Regions from separate parts of the Homo sapiens genome. Here region 1 is linked to region 2. A link means that fine-mapping ties the variant in region 2 to the expression of a gene that starts in the linked region. Tissue or cell type: blood mononuclear cells. Region 2 holds a variant in brackets; the other region holds the start of a gene. All regions are shown on one strand. Distances are between the middles of the regions.

What was found. PIP is the estimated chance that this variant, and not a neighbour inherited with it, causes the effect.
Region 1: MLLT3 starts here. The variant in region 2 is fine-mapped to the expression of MLLT3 in blood mononuclear cells (TOPMed, PIP above 0.99). The same link has a PIP of 0.9 or more in T cells.

What each region holds. Positions count from the first base shown.
Region 1 is chr9:20,617,737-20,625,835 of GRCh38, forward strand. MLLT3 (MLLT3 super elongation complex subunit) reads right to left here and starts at 4,763. Exons shown (of 11, transcript NM_004529.4): 1 at 4,509-4,763; 2 at 2,918-3,098. The coding sequence starts at 4,520. RefSeq lists silencers at 2,712-2,831, 4,052-4,101, 4,172-4,321, 4,742-5,201, 5,222-5,361 and an enhancer at 2,992-3,121.
Region 2 is chr9:20,338,457-20,346,556 of GRCh38, forward strand. It overlaps MLLT3 (MLLT3 super elongation complex subunit), which reads right to left. Exons shown (of 11, transcript NM_004529.4): 11 at 3,213-8,100. The coding sequence ends at 7,987. Among named protein-coding and RNA genes, the nearest start is that of MIR4473, 69 kb to the right of the region's middle. The variant C/T (reference allele first, on the strand shown) is at 4,102.

The DNA.
Region 1 (8,099 bases), 280 kb after region 2:
CCATTTCATCAAAATCTCTTTTCTAAGATTTTGTGCCATTAGTTTTAAATTGAAGGTCTCCCACCCATCTTTGTGACAGAGTAAAACCTCATTAATTCAAATCCAATTAGCTCAATTCTGAAATGGTATACATAATTCTCATTAAGCAACAAGTTAAAAATACTATAATTTTTTCTCCTACAAATTCTAATATTACTGTGAAGTAAAGGAAATCAACCTGAAAATCAATTCACTTTTCCAAACCAAAGATTTACAAAACTAAGGACTCTTTCATCTTTGTGGCTGAGCAGTTCATCCTCAGTCCTAAGGCTCATCTCTGTTTAGCAGCTACTGTATACAGTGAAAGTGATTTAGATTGTCACTATAGCCAACACAGCTTATTTATTATAGAATATGAGCATTTCTTTTAAAGATCTTATAACTCAGATTTCTCACAAATTCATATTTTCAGTTTCTCCAATTTCCAATTGGTAGAATTTTACTCTATCACTTATAGATCTACAATATAGCTAACATAACACTTTAAAAGGTACTGGAAGTAGACATACAAATTCTTGGCATTCTTATTCTATATTTATTCTTATCATTTTGAAAGACTTTATAAGCCAAAAAATAAGTCCCAGGATTAAGTGGCATGTTTGGTGTTGCTTGAACTTACAACTATTCCCAATGAACAGAGAAACCTTCTCTTGCAATCTGAATCATGTGTAATTACAGTATGACAAGGTCTCTCCTGGGTGATGTAAGCTGGCACTTTTCCCAGGACTTGTCACATCATGGGAAGCACGCATACAAATAAAAATCCAAAAATAAACATTTTAAAACAATGGCTTATAGACTGCATAGAGAACCTCCACAGTTGAGTATAAAAATTGAGGAATCCAACCAACAAGCAGACATCTCTCACCAGAGACCTCTGAGAAGTCATCACTGCTATCAAGCAGCTTACCACGCCTAGCAACAACTCCCAGGTGTGGCCTATGTGAGCAGCACCCTCATGTTCCCTCAGGGCAGACAGAAAATCATTAAGTATAGGAAATAAAAATAACATCAATGCACACATCCACTGAAGCAGAAAAACAATGGTAAAATAGAGGTTGATCATCTTTAATTTCATAATGCCAATTTGTTGATTGTCAAGGTGCCTAAACAAAGTTACCTTAAGAGCTACATCTTCTGCCAACTGAGTTAATTTTCCTAATAAATGTTGCTTTTTAAAAGCTTATTTCACCTTGAAGTGAACTGCAGCCAAGTAGTAGTAATAATGTGTACCAAGGATCTTAGAAAGTGGTTTCTTTTGTTTAAACTCCTCTGCTCTACAGACACATGGAAAGGGAGAGAGAGAATCCGAGAAGCAGCATATCAACCTCATCAGCGATAGAAATTTGACATCGCTCATCCTTACCACAGTTTGGAGGAAATATGAAATATAATAATCTCTGACTATATTTTAACATAAAATGCTAACAAATTTCAAATGTTATTTCCTATAGGCCATGCATATTTCTAGCCCTCTATAAGAAACTGGATTTATTTATTAACCATCCAACAAAGACCATCAAATTCAACCGTTCAAGTTTTCAGGAGGAGTTATAAACCAAACCACTAAAGGCAAAAAATACAATCCTACTTCCCATTACATGAGCTCTGGAAACAAAACTAAGCACCAATACAAACCTCTGCCACCTCTAAGGCACACGACGCTTCTCCTTTCTTTATTCAGCCCCCTGAATGTTCAATAATTTCCACACAGCTCTAAGCAGAATGGATTTATTATGATATTACTCTAAGAAACGACAGGAGTTCTAGATGCCAATAAAGATTACGGATCAAATGGAAGATAACTACTAACCATTGTGTCGACTTAGATAAATAAACCTGCTCACAAACAAAGCACCTTATTGTATTTGTACTGTTACCTTCACTAATCCAACTAAAACAACCAGACATTAGTTTTCCAGAGGTTGAAGGGAAAAGAAATCGGTATTTCTCAAACCCTCTTTAAATTTCTTTCAAAATGACACTCCGTTTCTTTTTTCCAAAACTGTCCTGCCCATTATGGAAAATGTTTGGGACCACAGAGGCCCAGTAGGATTATGCAAACTAGACTCCAAGGCTAAGAACCAAGGTGGGGAGGGACTAAAGCAAAAGGCTTCCTCCACATCGTTCCTCTTCAACTTAGCTTCGACCTTTGCAAGAACAGTCTCCCTGCAGATCACATCCGGCAGACACTTTGGAACGTTGCTCAGAATCAAAGGAGCAGTCAAGTGGCACGCGGGGGTGGGAGGGAGGAACGAGTAAGCCCCCCAAGTAAACATAAAATCCAGACTGGAGTGGGTGTGGCGGTGGCTAAGCCACAAAAAGAAAAGTCTATGGCAACTGGCACCTGGTGCCTCATACACAGACAGGAAAGCACAGAAGACCCTAAAGAGAACCGACTTGCCAAGACCGAACAATAACTACATCCAATACATTCTTTGCTAATAACACAGGTAAATCTTAATTTCTCTAGGAAAACACACACACACACACACACACACACACACACACACACACACGCGCAAAGTGTTTATTCCCTCCAGCCCGATTCCCCACATCTCCAAACTCAACAACTAATTGCACCTTCCCCACAGAACCCGCGGCTAACCCCAGAGGACTGGTGAGGGCTGGCTTGGGATGAATAAACACTCGACACCTGACGGTCCTTTCTCTGCGGTGACTTTCACCAAGCCGAAGTGGCGCGCGCGCGGGCAGGCGGGAGCCGGGACCTGGCCCGCGCGGCGCCGCGCACCCGGATCCCGAGGCTACGCCGGCGAGCGCGGCGCGGGGGGCGGGGAGCGGGACAGCGGGACCGCCCGGGCCAAGCGATTGTTTCAAAGACATTTTTTATCAAGACCCTTTTGTATTCGAGCCCTACCTCTTTTTGGCCTAGGAAAGCTTTCGTGCAAGTGGAAGACGACTTTCTCCACAAAGTGCTGTATGTTACTGTGCTCCGGACCGCGTACGAACACCATCCAGTCGTGGGTGAAGCCCTCCACGGTGGGTTTTTTCCTCACCTGGGCGCGGTGCCCCAGCTCCAGCTTCACCTGCACGGCACACTGCGGGCAGGGGGAGGAGAGACAGCCGTGAATAACAGGAAGGCGAGGTTTCGGCAGTGAACGTTGCGCCTGACATTTTTTTCCTCCTTCTTGAAACGCACATAAAAGGAAACGGCGGTGCCCTCTGCATCCACGTTTCACGCGCGTGGGCGCGCACACTCCACACCCCCAAATATACCCGCCCGCCCGGCCCGGCTTGGCCCCAGGCGCCCCGGGCCCCGCATCTACATCGGACAGGATTGTAACGGAATGTTATCCCCAGTCGGGAAGGGGGTCGGGGAAAAGAGGGAGAACACACTCAGCCACGACAAGCACGACAACAAATGCATCGGAAACAAATCAGAAGGCGATGCCGGGGCGGTTTCCCGGCGTGGGAGGGGAGGTGGCTGGGACCCAGGGGGACCGAAGGGCTCCTGGCGAGCCCCCTCCCCGAAAGTACCGCGGCGACAGGCACACGCCGAGGAAGTCTTTGTGTACGTGTGTGTGCGTGCGTGTGGAGCGCTGTGCCAGGCGAAATGGAAACTACAGGCAGCCTCTGCTGATGGGCACAAACTCCCGTGCTCTTGCCACGGGGTTCGTGCACAACAAAAATGAGACGTCGTCATACACACTGAAACACACACACACGCCCGCAGGAAAACACGCCGAGGCATCCATAACTTAGAGCACCCCGCACCCCCCAGCGAAAAGCCCCACGCGATCGGCGAGGCCAGTCGAACCGAGCCCCCGCAACACACTTTCAAGAGCCCAAGTGGCTCCAAAGTATCTCCCACCTCCCCCCAAAAAATGAAATTCAGAAAGGCAGGGCGGCGGGCGGACAGCCGCCGAGCCTCGGCTCGCGCTCAGCACCTCCCGGCGCTGGGGCAAAGTTGCGTGCGGCCCCGCCGCTGTCAGCCCCGCACACTTCGGCTCACACACGCGCGCCGCGGAGAACGCACCATCGTAGCGGCCGCGGCGCTTTGCGGAGGTGCGGCCGCCGAGGCTGCTCGCCGCGTCCCCGGACTGTGCCCGCAGCTCCCGGCGGCGGCGGCTGAAATATGGCTGAGTTATTATTCGCCTCCTTCCACCGTGTGTGTGTGTGTGTGTGAGTGCGCGCGTGTGAGCGAGAGGGAGTGTGTGAGTGCGCTTCTTGTGACTGCAAAGAGGCGAGGAGGGAGGGAGGCGCGGGGGGTGGAGGGGCGAGTGTGAGCGTGTGTGAGTGTGTGTGTGTCTGTGTGTCTGTGTGCGCGCCGGGGGGGGGTGGGGGAGGAGGGGAGCGGAGGCTGAGGGAGAGGCGGCAGCTCCCTGCAAGCCGTACCAACCTTTCTCTAATTGGAACCGCGGAGCGCTGGCGCTGTCTGGGCTGCGGCGGCGCAGGGCGAGGAAGGAAAGTGGGGGAGGGCTTTTATTATTATTTTTGCGCGTACTTACCGAGCTAGCCATGCCTGGGGGCCCGGAGGTTTGCTGGGGTGTTGTGTGGTACCCCCCCCTCCTCCGCCCCCCCTCAGCTGTAATTCATGAAGAGGCTGCTATGAATGAGAGCGCGCCCAGGAGCGGAGGGTAGATGGCGGACATTCTCTGCCTTTTTCCCCCCGCGCTCGCTTGCTCGCTCGCTCGCTTATTAAACTCAGCCCCAAAAGCAAAAGCAGCAGCAGCAGCAGCAGCTCCAGGGTAAAGAAGATGATTGCGGAGCATGCGCCGTGGCGCCTGACACCCGGGCTCCGAGCCTCACAGGGCGGAGGGAGGGCTTGCGGGCGGGGCGGAGCGCGCGGGGAGGCAGAGCGAGCGAGCCAGGGGGAGCTCGAAAGAGCCAATCACCTGCCACCTCCCGAAACCCCGGCGGCCCGCAGCGCCACACTGGAAAGCCTCGCTTAAAGTAACAGGTTCCTGCTGGGGGGGTGGCAGGGAGGGGACGCAGGAGTGGGGAGAGCGGCCAGCTGGGGAGCCATCCCAGCCCCTGTGTAAACTCTGCTCGCCCTACAATAAAAAACGGATTAAAACTGCTGGAATGTAGCCACTGCTTAGAGCCCTCAGCAGCCGGAGAGGGGGTGTTAAATCAAGTCCTTAGCTAGTACGCACGGGGAGGAGGGAGTGGGCTTTCTTTTACTTTCCACCACGTATTTCTGTGGTTTTGTGCTGAAAAGACAAGAACTCACACCCAAACAAACTTACTTAAAGAGAGCGAGAGAAATGCCATCCTGCAAAAAACGAGCATGAAAATAGCAATGACTGAGGCTGTTCTAACCCGCAACGATCCCCTGGCCCCCTGCCCCATCCACTCACAGGCACCCGCCCGCCACCCTCACTCCCCGCCCTTCTGCCACCGCCACCGAAAATTTGAAAATGAAATGAACAAGGGAGAAACAAGGATGCTATTTCCTTGCAAGGGAACGCCTTCCGCTTTGGTAATCCCCGGCTGGGAAGCTTCATAAAGCGGTGCCCAGGTGAAAGCAAGACACCTGGGAGTGCCGGGTACAGACCCTCGGGGACCAGGCTTGGAGTTGTTTTCTTCGGGGGGCTTCCCCTCCTGACAGCCTACTGAGTTGCATCAGAACGTGGAGGATTGTCCTCTGAGGACGCGCGGGGCAACCGGGAGTCTTAAAATAGCAGATAAAGTTAATACTGACTGTAATGTGCGTAAATTGGATTATAATCTTTAGGCGTATTGGTGACAACCAGCGTAATCCATCTCTGAGTATTAATCCGGTTAGACTCCCGGGTGACAGCCAGTCGCAGGAGTGTTCCCAGAGTCGCGCCTCTGCAAATGTTCTCACTCGCGTTGTATTTGATCTCAGTGGCCGGAGATAGAACAGCGCGGCCACGCGTGGGGCGCGGAGAGGAGTATCAACTACTGGCTTCCTTTACAGACGCAGATAACCTTTAAAAAGGAAACGGATAAGATCTAGACGATTGATTTGAAAGTGAAAGATGGATGTGACTTTGGTTCGTTAAAAAAAGATCCTTGCATCTTCCTAGCCCTTAGACCTCTTTTGCCTTCTCTTTACTCCCCTTTTTCCCTCGCCTTCCAACTTCTTGCTGAACCTTGATTTTTCCTTCTCTTCTCCTTGCCTTTCCTCTTTGTCCCTCTTTCTTTCCTCTTTGTCCCTTTCTTTCCTCTTTGTCCCTTTCTTTCCTCTTTGTCCCTCTTCCTCTTTCTGACTGAACTTCCTTGCTTTCCTCTTTTCCCTTTACTTCCCTTTTCCACAAAAGCAAGTTGTCTCGGCCCTTGAATTGAGAAGAGCAGAATAGCGGGGAGGACGTTACCTAGGGCGTCCTGTGTCCTCGCTGTTAATTTTCAGTTCTCCCAGCAGCTCTCACAAAGATCCTGGGAATCAGGTCGGACCACTTGGAACCAACCTTAGTTTCCAAACCAGCAGCCTTCCAACTCAACTTTTGATTCCCTAAAACTGATATTCCGCTGCCTGTCAGTTATAATCAAGAAACTTCTTTGGCTTGAGGTCCCCAGTTCTTCCCAGCCTTCTACAGGATTTAGCATAGAATGGAGCAAACGACTGAAGGTAGAAACATTTTAATCTAAATCCAAGGGCTTAGATTTGTCAACTGACACACATATACATAACTGCATATCATCCTGTAGGTATATGCGTCGCTGTGTCTGTATGTATGTACAAGGACTACGTTTATATTCGCAGAGACAAGCTGTGTGGGTAGTATCTACGTGAAGGGGGGACCTATTTATTGTGCATTATTAAACTTTTCATAAAATAATCAAATTTGAGAGCAGTCCTTTGTAATAATAGTATTGGAAACTAAAGGTTATCTGGACGTGCCATTAGTAAAGCCATTTCTTATTAAGAAGTAACCATTAACAGCGAGTGTAGCTCAGGACACAGGCAAAAAACAACAATCCCATTCCCCGTTTGAGTTCATTTCAGGGTTTAACTTCTTCCGGCGCCAGCCACCGGACTCTCTTGAGATTGTCTCCAAAACTTGTACCCGCACAACAGATAGAGGTCTCTTTTTTGAATTATGTGTTTGCTGAATTCAGATTTATTCCAGCAATCACTAATAAGCCATAGAGTCTGAAAGGGTATTTTCCCAGTACCCCTCCTTCCTCAAAGAATGCTCTAACAACCCAACGTAGTTACTCCCAATCTCCAAATACTGGACATTTAGATTCCGTCAGTAGATGGCGCACGGAGCTCTTCCACGGACGTCCTTACGTGACCCCTTCACAACAAAAAGATCAGGAAGGGGGAGAAAAGAAAGAAAAGAAAACACAAGACTGAATACTCTCCCTTCAACTTTGGACAAAGAAATTTATGCAAGTCTGTCAATTTATTAATTACAACCTATTTTAATAAGCTTGCCATTAAAAACAATTAAAATCGATTAATTTCCTGTGCAGATCTTCACACTTTAACGTGAGGTAAAAATGTGGAAAATAACCTTTTGTGTACTTGACAATGTGGTTATAGAAAATGTACTGTAAAGAAATTTTAAGACAAACTTCAGTGCTAAATACAGAAATAGTAATATAATAACTAAAATGGAAGTGGTGAGGGATAAAATCATCTACTTATCCAAAGAATAATTATCTTACCAAAATTCATACTGTTGTATATAGCACAGTATGAAGCACCATGGGGTTAGTTTGAAGATCAGAAAAGTAATTAACATATCAAATAAAAATCGTGATGAAGAATAAAAGAGAACAGTGTCTGTGACAGATCACTACCACCACTACCATCACCATTGCCCTACCACCATCATTTTGGCTCCAGCCTTTTTATTTGCAATTGTTTTCTTTAGTCTGGAAGCTAAAGCCAGTTTCCATGTTTCTGGCAGAACAAAGAGAGGGCCTTTAACGTGTAATTAGAGTGTTAAGGAGCATCCTAAAATAAACTTATCTATTTGTTGTGATAGATAATTGATGCACAAATTCAAATCAATAAAAATTTACCATTTATTTCCCGTCATTGCTGTATAGACTTGGGGAGAAAAGAGGAAGAAGAAGCATGGAAAAAACTAGAAAATGTGCCAGACTCTAAATAGACATTT
Region 2 (8,100 bases):
TCCTCGAAACTACAGTGACCACATGCCCTGATTTGCCAAAGACAGCTTTGATTTATTCATGTTGTCCTGGGATGATTATTAATAGTGTCCCATTTCCTTCTCAAAAATGTTCCAGTTTGCCAGATCTAGTGGTATGGACCTGTAGTCCCAACTACTTCTGAGACCAAAGCGGGAGGTTCACTTAAGCCTAGGAGTTCAAGACCATAGCATGTTATTATGTGCCTGTGAATAGCTACTGCACTACAGCCCTGGCAACGTAGAGAAATCCTGTATGTAAAAAAAAAAAAAAAAAAAAAAAAAAAATTCCAGTTTGGCCAAAAAGTTACATGGTTAGCTAATCCAGAAAACCACTTCTAGAGATAGTAATAGCCGTGTTGTCCTTCTCTGAAACTGTGCTACCCAAACTATGTTATAAACCTTGAAGAATGAAATACAGTTTAAAAACGATTTTGAGGCTGGGCGCGGTGGCTCAGGCCTGTAATTTCAGCACTTTGGGAGGCAGAGGCAGGCGGATCACAAGGTCAGGAGATCAAGACCATCCTGGCTAACACGGTGAAACCCCGTCTGTACTAAAAATACAACAAAAAATTAGCCAGGCGTGGTGGCGGGCACCTGTAGTCCCAGCTACTTGGGAGGCTGAGGCAGGAGAATGGCGTGAACACGGCAGGTGGTACTTGCAGTGAGCCGAGATCGCGCCACTGCACTCCAGCCTGGGTGACTGAGCCAGACTCCGTCTCATAAAAAAACAATAAAATAAAATAAAAACTATTTTGATAAAGAAACATTATTTTAAATGCCAAACAGCTATTATTATCTTGCATAACTACTATTGTGTTACATACTGTTTGGGAAATATTGCATTAAATAAAGTTAAACAAGTTTGACTATTGGTGGAACATGTGGCTTTCCAAGATTTAATATTTTAGTACGTCATGAATTGCCAAGAGGGTCATATACTGGGCAATTTTTCCAAACTTAAACGCAAAACCATTTCTCATGAAATGTCAAAAGAGGTTCATGTTCCACAAAATGCTCCCACATTTTCATTTGATAAATAGAGGTGTCTCGTATGTCTTGGACTTGTTCTAGGTCCTGGAATCAGCAGTGAACAAACCAAACTTCTTGCCCTCAGGTGCTTCTGTTCTAGTGGGGGAGACAGATAATAAACATGGAAACAAATAAGTATTGTAATTTGGAAAACAATGATTTATCCCCCAACTGATTCAAAGTCAAAACTCCCGACATCTAACAATTCTGAGGGATATTCATGAAGCAGCCTGTCTTCAGATGTGAGTTGGCAATGATTTGTGTCTCTCAAAAGCCATCGTCGGGCATCGTGTTTCCTGAATAAAAGAAGCTTCCCTTAAGAAGTCTCCGCCTTTGAACTAAGCGCGCTTCATTTGGCATTCTCATTAGTATAGATGTGCTTTTGGGGGAGTCCACCTTTATTTAGATTGCTTGTGGACCGTATTCGTGTGTACCTTTAATTTAATGCTATTTCCTGTCCTAGCTAGACCGAGGTGTTATTTAAAACAGCGTCCCTTTCAAAAGAGATGTTAATAGGTGCTTAGCACCCAGGGAATACATTCCAACAAATGAAGAGTTATACATTCTATGCCACACATCCCATCCCCTAGGGCTGGGGTGGCGAGAGACAAGAAGGTTCATACACACACACAGACACACACACACACACACACACACACACACACACACACACACACACACTCCTACCCTCTGATTGGTTCTGTGCAGAATAGAGACTCACATTTAAATGAATAAGCCAAGTTAAAACTTTCCATCCTGGAACAAAGCAAAAGGAAAGCCTCTTTATGTTGCAGGGACTATAGATGCCACGGGCTGAGCCTGTCCCAAAGCTTCCCTCCACTGCTCAAAAACTAAGCCATCTTGCTGCGTTTAGCACTTCTCACCAGACCACCCACCCAGACACGGATACACAAACCACATGTGTGAGGAATGCTGTTCGGCTAGGAAATCAGTATCAGTATTTCAACCTTGTTACTTGCACAGACGGCCCTTTTAGTGCGACTCATTTGTTTTATCTTTTCAATAGCTTTGATTATTTTCTTTTAATGGCCTGGATTTATCCTTTTCTACCCTTTTGAAGCCTCAGAACTCTGTGGTGGGGACTGCATGGGGTGGGAGACATGACTACATGATTAAGGGGAAAATGAGCAAATAACGTTGTCTTTACTCACCATCTATCTCCCACTCCTTGTGGGCACCTCCCATTCCATGCGGACTGCCGAGTGCCCTAGTAGTCACCCTGAATTGTTATAAAAGTGGACTCAAGGAGCCTTCTCATTCAGGTCGAAGACTATTTGTGCTGTTATTTAAGAGCCATAGGGCCCAGTTATCATTATCAGAGTGTTTTCTGGTTTGTGCCGTATATTTCTCTCACTAGCTCCTAGGGACCACATTGGTTACCCTTCTTTAATTAAGGGGAAATTAAGACCAAGAGGCTAAGCTGAGAGCCAAAGGCAATTTAACAACCTCTGGAAAAAATTGGAAACGCCTCTACAGAAGGGGACCGCATAAACAGGAAGGTATGGATACTATTACCTGGCAGAGAAAGCAGAAGCTTTGAAATGTGCTCCGTGTTTTCTATTTGGGTGGTATCCCTGGCAAGGAAACCAATAAAATACCCTTAGTTGTTCTACTAATCAGAATAAAACAAGACCACTAGTTTTGGAGACTTATTTCCCTGAATTAGCAACCAGAGAGGTCTGGGGGTCAGGCTTGGTTATCTGTCATCTCTCTCCAGGTTTCCTTGCATATCGAAATGGGGCCATAAATTGGAGAGACAGGAAACAAATTATTGGGGAAAACCATGTGGTGCAGTGCACCCCTGGGTGAGTGTGCTTCAGCAGGGCCTGGGGCTGATCTTGACCCTTTCTATACAGTGGAGAAGGTGTAAGGCCATTATTTTAAATAAAATTGAGTATCTATGCCACAACAAGGGAACAGATTAGTCCAATCCAAGTATGGTCATTAGAAAGTTCTACTGCCACCCCAACCCATCTGGGACTGATGCTTCCACACCTAAACTCAGTTTCGGGTTGATAAGAGACAAAGCAGTCCCCTCTAATCCCCTAAATGGCTTGTCAGCCTGAATGAAGATAAAGTCAGTTTCTCAAATTTGATGTAAATCTCCTTACTATTAAGTAAGAGCATCACATCCAATTCCTTGGTTATTTACCAAACTGAATGTATTTTATTCTCTTTGTTGTAGTAGTTGTTCTCCTTCCTGTCTAATCAAGGTAGCAGTTCTTGCTGTGAAAGTAAATGCAGGGACTTTGTAAGATCGACTCTCTCTGGCTATAGCACATTGTTTCTGAACAAAACCCTCCAAAGAAATAGGGGGGAAAGAAAAAATACCGGGCACACATAGCCCAGTTTATGCCAAAAAATGTATCCCACCACTTCTTGTTCCAATCTTTGCAGAGTTTTAAAAATATTATATATATACTGGCTTTAGGACACAGAAGATGGTGTTAGACATGAGGGACTCCTAAAATGAATGAGGCATGGACTCTCTGCCTTCAGCTGGTTTTGGACACATTGTCCTCTCTCTGGATGTCTCAGATCTCCCCATCTATTCTTCTTTAGAAACAGCATCACTTCTTGAGAAAAGGCTAGGGGCTAATTTTTCCTGTATGCAAAATAAAGCCAAACTTTGGTCAAATGACTCTCAGCAAATCAGTACAATTATACATTTTAAAAAAGGTGCTGAAACAGATTATATGAGTTTAAGTAAAACACCTATTTCTATCAATCTGTACTTACATTTCAACATGGATTTTAGAGAAGGGAAATACATCTTACAGTGTGCCTTGAATTCACACAAAAGCATGTACACATACACAATGTATCTTTCAACATAACTACACATACACAGTCCATTAAAAAGATACTGACAGATTTATAAAATGTATTGGCCTTGCACTGTTAATCTCAATAATACATTTTCACTTAATTTATTTTTGCACTGCATGGTAGCTCTGGCCACCATTAAGGATCTGTCAGCATTTCCATCATAACTCTATTTTCAGAATACTGGAGTACAAGTGCCAAAATACA[C/T]ATTTACAGTTTACAGACAGCGGTGGCTTTGTCTTCCTTTTAAATTGACTTCTTCACTGCATCTTTACAAGGAATATTCAGGGATGGCAGTGCCTACATAATAAAAAGCATCATATAAAACAAAAGAGGTCAAAAGATGTAGACTTCCAGCCCGAGACTAAACTAAACCATGGGAATTGACTCCTTAACATTCACTGCAGCTGTAGTAGTCTCTACATCATATTCATAGTTTTAGAGCAACAGTCCAAAGCAAGATTACTCTGATAATATATATGTGTATATATATATATATATGTATATATAAATATAGGAGCAGTACATAGCATTAGTACACAAAACGCTAAAGGTGGAAAGTAATAAGCATACAGCAAATTACTCCAGAGCAGATCACTTCTACAGTGACAAAAATAAACACGAGCCACCAAACAGACACTGACTGTTTCCAACACTGGACATCCAACTCCATTAAGTAGGCAAAGTTAAAACATTTAAGAGTAAAGTCTCTCTTAAACAAATATATTAACTACATTTGTGGAGCTTGAAGTAGTAAATAGGATGTTATACAGGCCTAAAATTGTTTCTTCTCTTTTTTTTAAAGATTAGGTGGGCCTGTAAAAGATATCGGCAAAAAAAAAAAAAAAAAAAAAAAAAAAAAAATTTTGAAGAAACTTTTTAGTGGAAGAAAACCAATATTACTGGCTCTTTCCACCAAAAGGTGAATATTCAGATTAGAGAGATTTAAATTGCCTAGCAATTTAAAATGTTTAAGACACTCTCTTAAGAGATATTTTTTTCCTGATCTGAAGTTTTTATAGTCTTCCCTACCTTGACACTATATGAACGCATTTATAGACATACCTATTTGTCTGTATTAAGATTGAGAGAGAGGCAGATTATGCTGAGGATGGTGAAGTAACTGCAAAATATTGTTGCTAACATGACTGTTACATCCGAAGACAGAAGGAACCCCAAACCCACCAACACACATCCTGCTGCAAAACCAGAGGCAAAAGCTAAGTTATAAGGGGGCAGAGGGGCAGGAGCTCTGTACATATATTTTTTCCCCTGGCTGATCACTGAGGAAAAATTTTTTAAAAGTTTATCATACTCTGGCTGGTTCAAACCATATTCACATTTACCCAATTAATTTTATTTGAAACATCTATTTATATATGTACACCAAAGAAATTAAACCCTGCCATTTTCCCTTTGTGCTTAAGAAACCAGAGCCACTGTTAGGGTACTCACATGTCAAAGATATTCTTAATAGGCTTCAAAGTTGGGTGTATATAAATGTGACAGAACTGAAGGGGTTACTTTAAGAGAGGTATTAAAACTACTTGAAATTAATTCAAAGGGATCTTTTTATTTCTGTATTTAAAAATTAGATGAGAGCAAGATTACCACTTCAAAAAAAATAACGTAACTCTCAGTCTTAATTTTGTGAAAAACTTACTTTGCTATCTTGATGAGTAGAAGATGGATAAGTTTTTCTGAACTTTATCAATTTACAAACTTACATTTTAGGATATTCTGAAGAAATTAACTTTATTACCTAATTTTCAAGTCTAAAGTTTATCATATAATAGCTGTCCTTCTTATCATTATTTTTGTTTGGTCATTTCTTATCTTACCTAGCTTCTTGGTTAGTAACTTAAAGGAAAAAATTTTTACATTGGCAAATCATATTTTTTGCCCCACAATTTAGTTACAGAAATAAAAATGGCCCAAACTACATATATACGTTTCTAGTTAAACTACACAGATATATTAAATCACATAAACTTCTGGCTTGATCAGAATATGTGTTAGCAGTTAGAAATTTTAAAATATTTTAAAAATTTGCAACATTTCCATATAAACATTACCCTCCCCTTCCAGCTATAAAGTTAAAAACAAAACGCAACTGAAACCACACAATTCATCAATCACCTAATGTCCAAAATGACTCAAAGTTTCTCTGCACATCAAGAAGTGGACAATACAACAAATGCTTCAAGTACGGTTCATGCCAATCGTCATTAAGAATCATAACATTATTGAGAAAGTACACTTGTCCTCTGGGAGGACGCTTCAGAGAAATAATTTACAAGGAGCATGGCTGTATTATAATTTTTTAAAGGAAAAATAGTTTCTTTGGATAGAAAGAAACAGTGTAAAAAATCCCCTTTTTAAAATGCAGAAATAACTCCATTATCAATCTGCATTTATATAACTGCCCAAAAGAATGGGTCTGGAAAGACCATTTTCTGTACAGACACTAGTTAATCTCTGTATGAAAAGACAGCATCTGGCATGGGAACAAACAAGGGAGATACTGGTCTATTAGCACACATAGAGACTTTCTTAAGGCTGATCCAGTGACGAACCTTTGGATCCAGAAGTATTTCTTCATTTCTCTTCTTTTCGGCTGAATTTCTAGTAAAAACTTTGAAGATGAGCTGTTCTTACTTTTCATTTCTCCACTTATGGAGAAGATGGAATAATGACACCAAAAGTACTTTGGTTTTTTTCTTTTAAAAATAATTTGCTTTCTTTTGCATGCCACAGGACAGATTTCTAGTTTCAAAACAAGGGTACAACAAGAACAAAAAAATCCCCCCATCCCCAACCGTCTTTCACCAATACAAGAAATCCTTCTGGAAATATTAGCAAGCAACTAAACAGGTATTGAACCACTGAATCTACAAGTTAATACATAATCTGTTATGGCAGAATAACCAAGAATTTTTCCCCAAAGAAAGATTTTAATTTTTTCAAATATAAAAGTGTCTAAGAGAATCATATGTGAACAAACAAAAATCTCTGATTCCAGATTTTTAGGATAAAGATGAGTAACACACTGGCAGCTGAAGAAAGCTGAAACTCTGACTAATAAATAGATCCAAATTAAGAATTTCTACAACAGTTTTTTTTTTTAGAAAACAGGACCAGAATTCTTTTTTTTTAAATGATGATCCTGTGGAATGCCTTTACTTCCATATTCACCTAATATTGTAACAGTAAAACAGACACAAGAATGTTGATGACAGCTCAACAATGCTGGATTCAGGACATTTACAGGTACACTTTTGTTTAAAAGTCCTACAAGTTTATTGACTAAGGCTAGACAGCAATTCATATGATCCTATTTGGTGCATTTTCTACCATGGTCCAAGATCATTACATGGATACAGCCAAGGACTGGGCCCCAACTTTCAGGAAAAAGACCACAAAGAAGAAAATCAAGGTGGCTATTTGGTCCCCCCAGTTGATAATCTGTGTCCTGGAACTGGAAAAACAAAAGGTGGAAAATACAGACTGCAACGAGTTAAAGGACTTGGAAAAAGTTGGTGGAAAGTGGCACGGTATACGAGTAAGGTCACTGGGCTTGGGATGGCAAGGGTGCTGCATTGAAAGAGCATCCACGGGACCAAGTACTTATAATGTCTGATGGTGTCATTCCCTCAACGACTTAGAATATCTGTATGCGATAATAAATAGATCAGTTATGTAATAAGGCAGTGTGTTGAATATGCATTCGTCCTGTGGAATGAACCACCACAGAGAGATACATGATACCATACACATTCTTTGAGTTTTCTTGTGTTGTGTTTGATTTGTTTGTTTTCAAGGCTATCCAGGCTAACTCTTCCCGGGGATTTCCTTGGAGAGAAGAGTGGTCCGCTGAGGCTGGTTTGCTTTAACCTCTCCTTTATCAAGAGATGATGACTGGCTTTAAAGAAAAATAAAGCTGAAGGTTGTTTGATTTTTATTTTTTCCCTTTTGGTTGCATCATTTTGAGTGTTTTCATATAAACAACAAGAACAAAAAATCACAACCAAAAAAAAAAAAAACCAAAAAAAAAAAACACAATAGTTCTTGATGCATCCAGTTGTTATATCCTCAGGATGTTCCAGATGTTTCCAGGTAACTCTGTAGTTTACGGACTGTGGTTTTGTCCAGCGAGCAAAGATCAAAATCAAATGTTGTGTTTGTGATATGAAAGTGTCCAGTTTC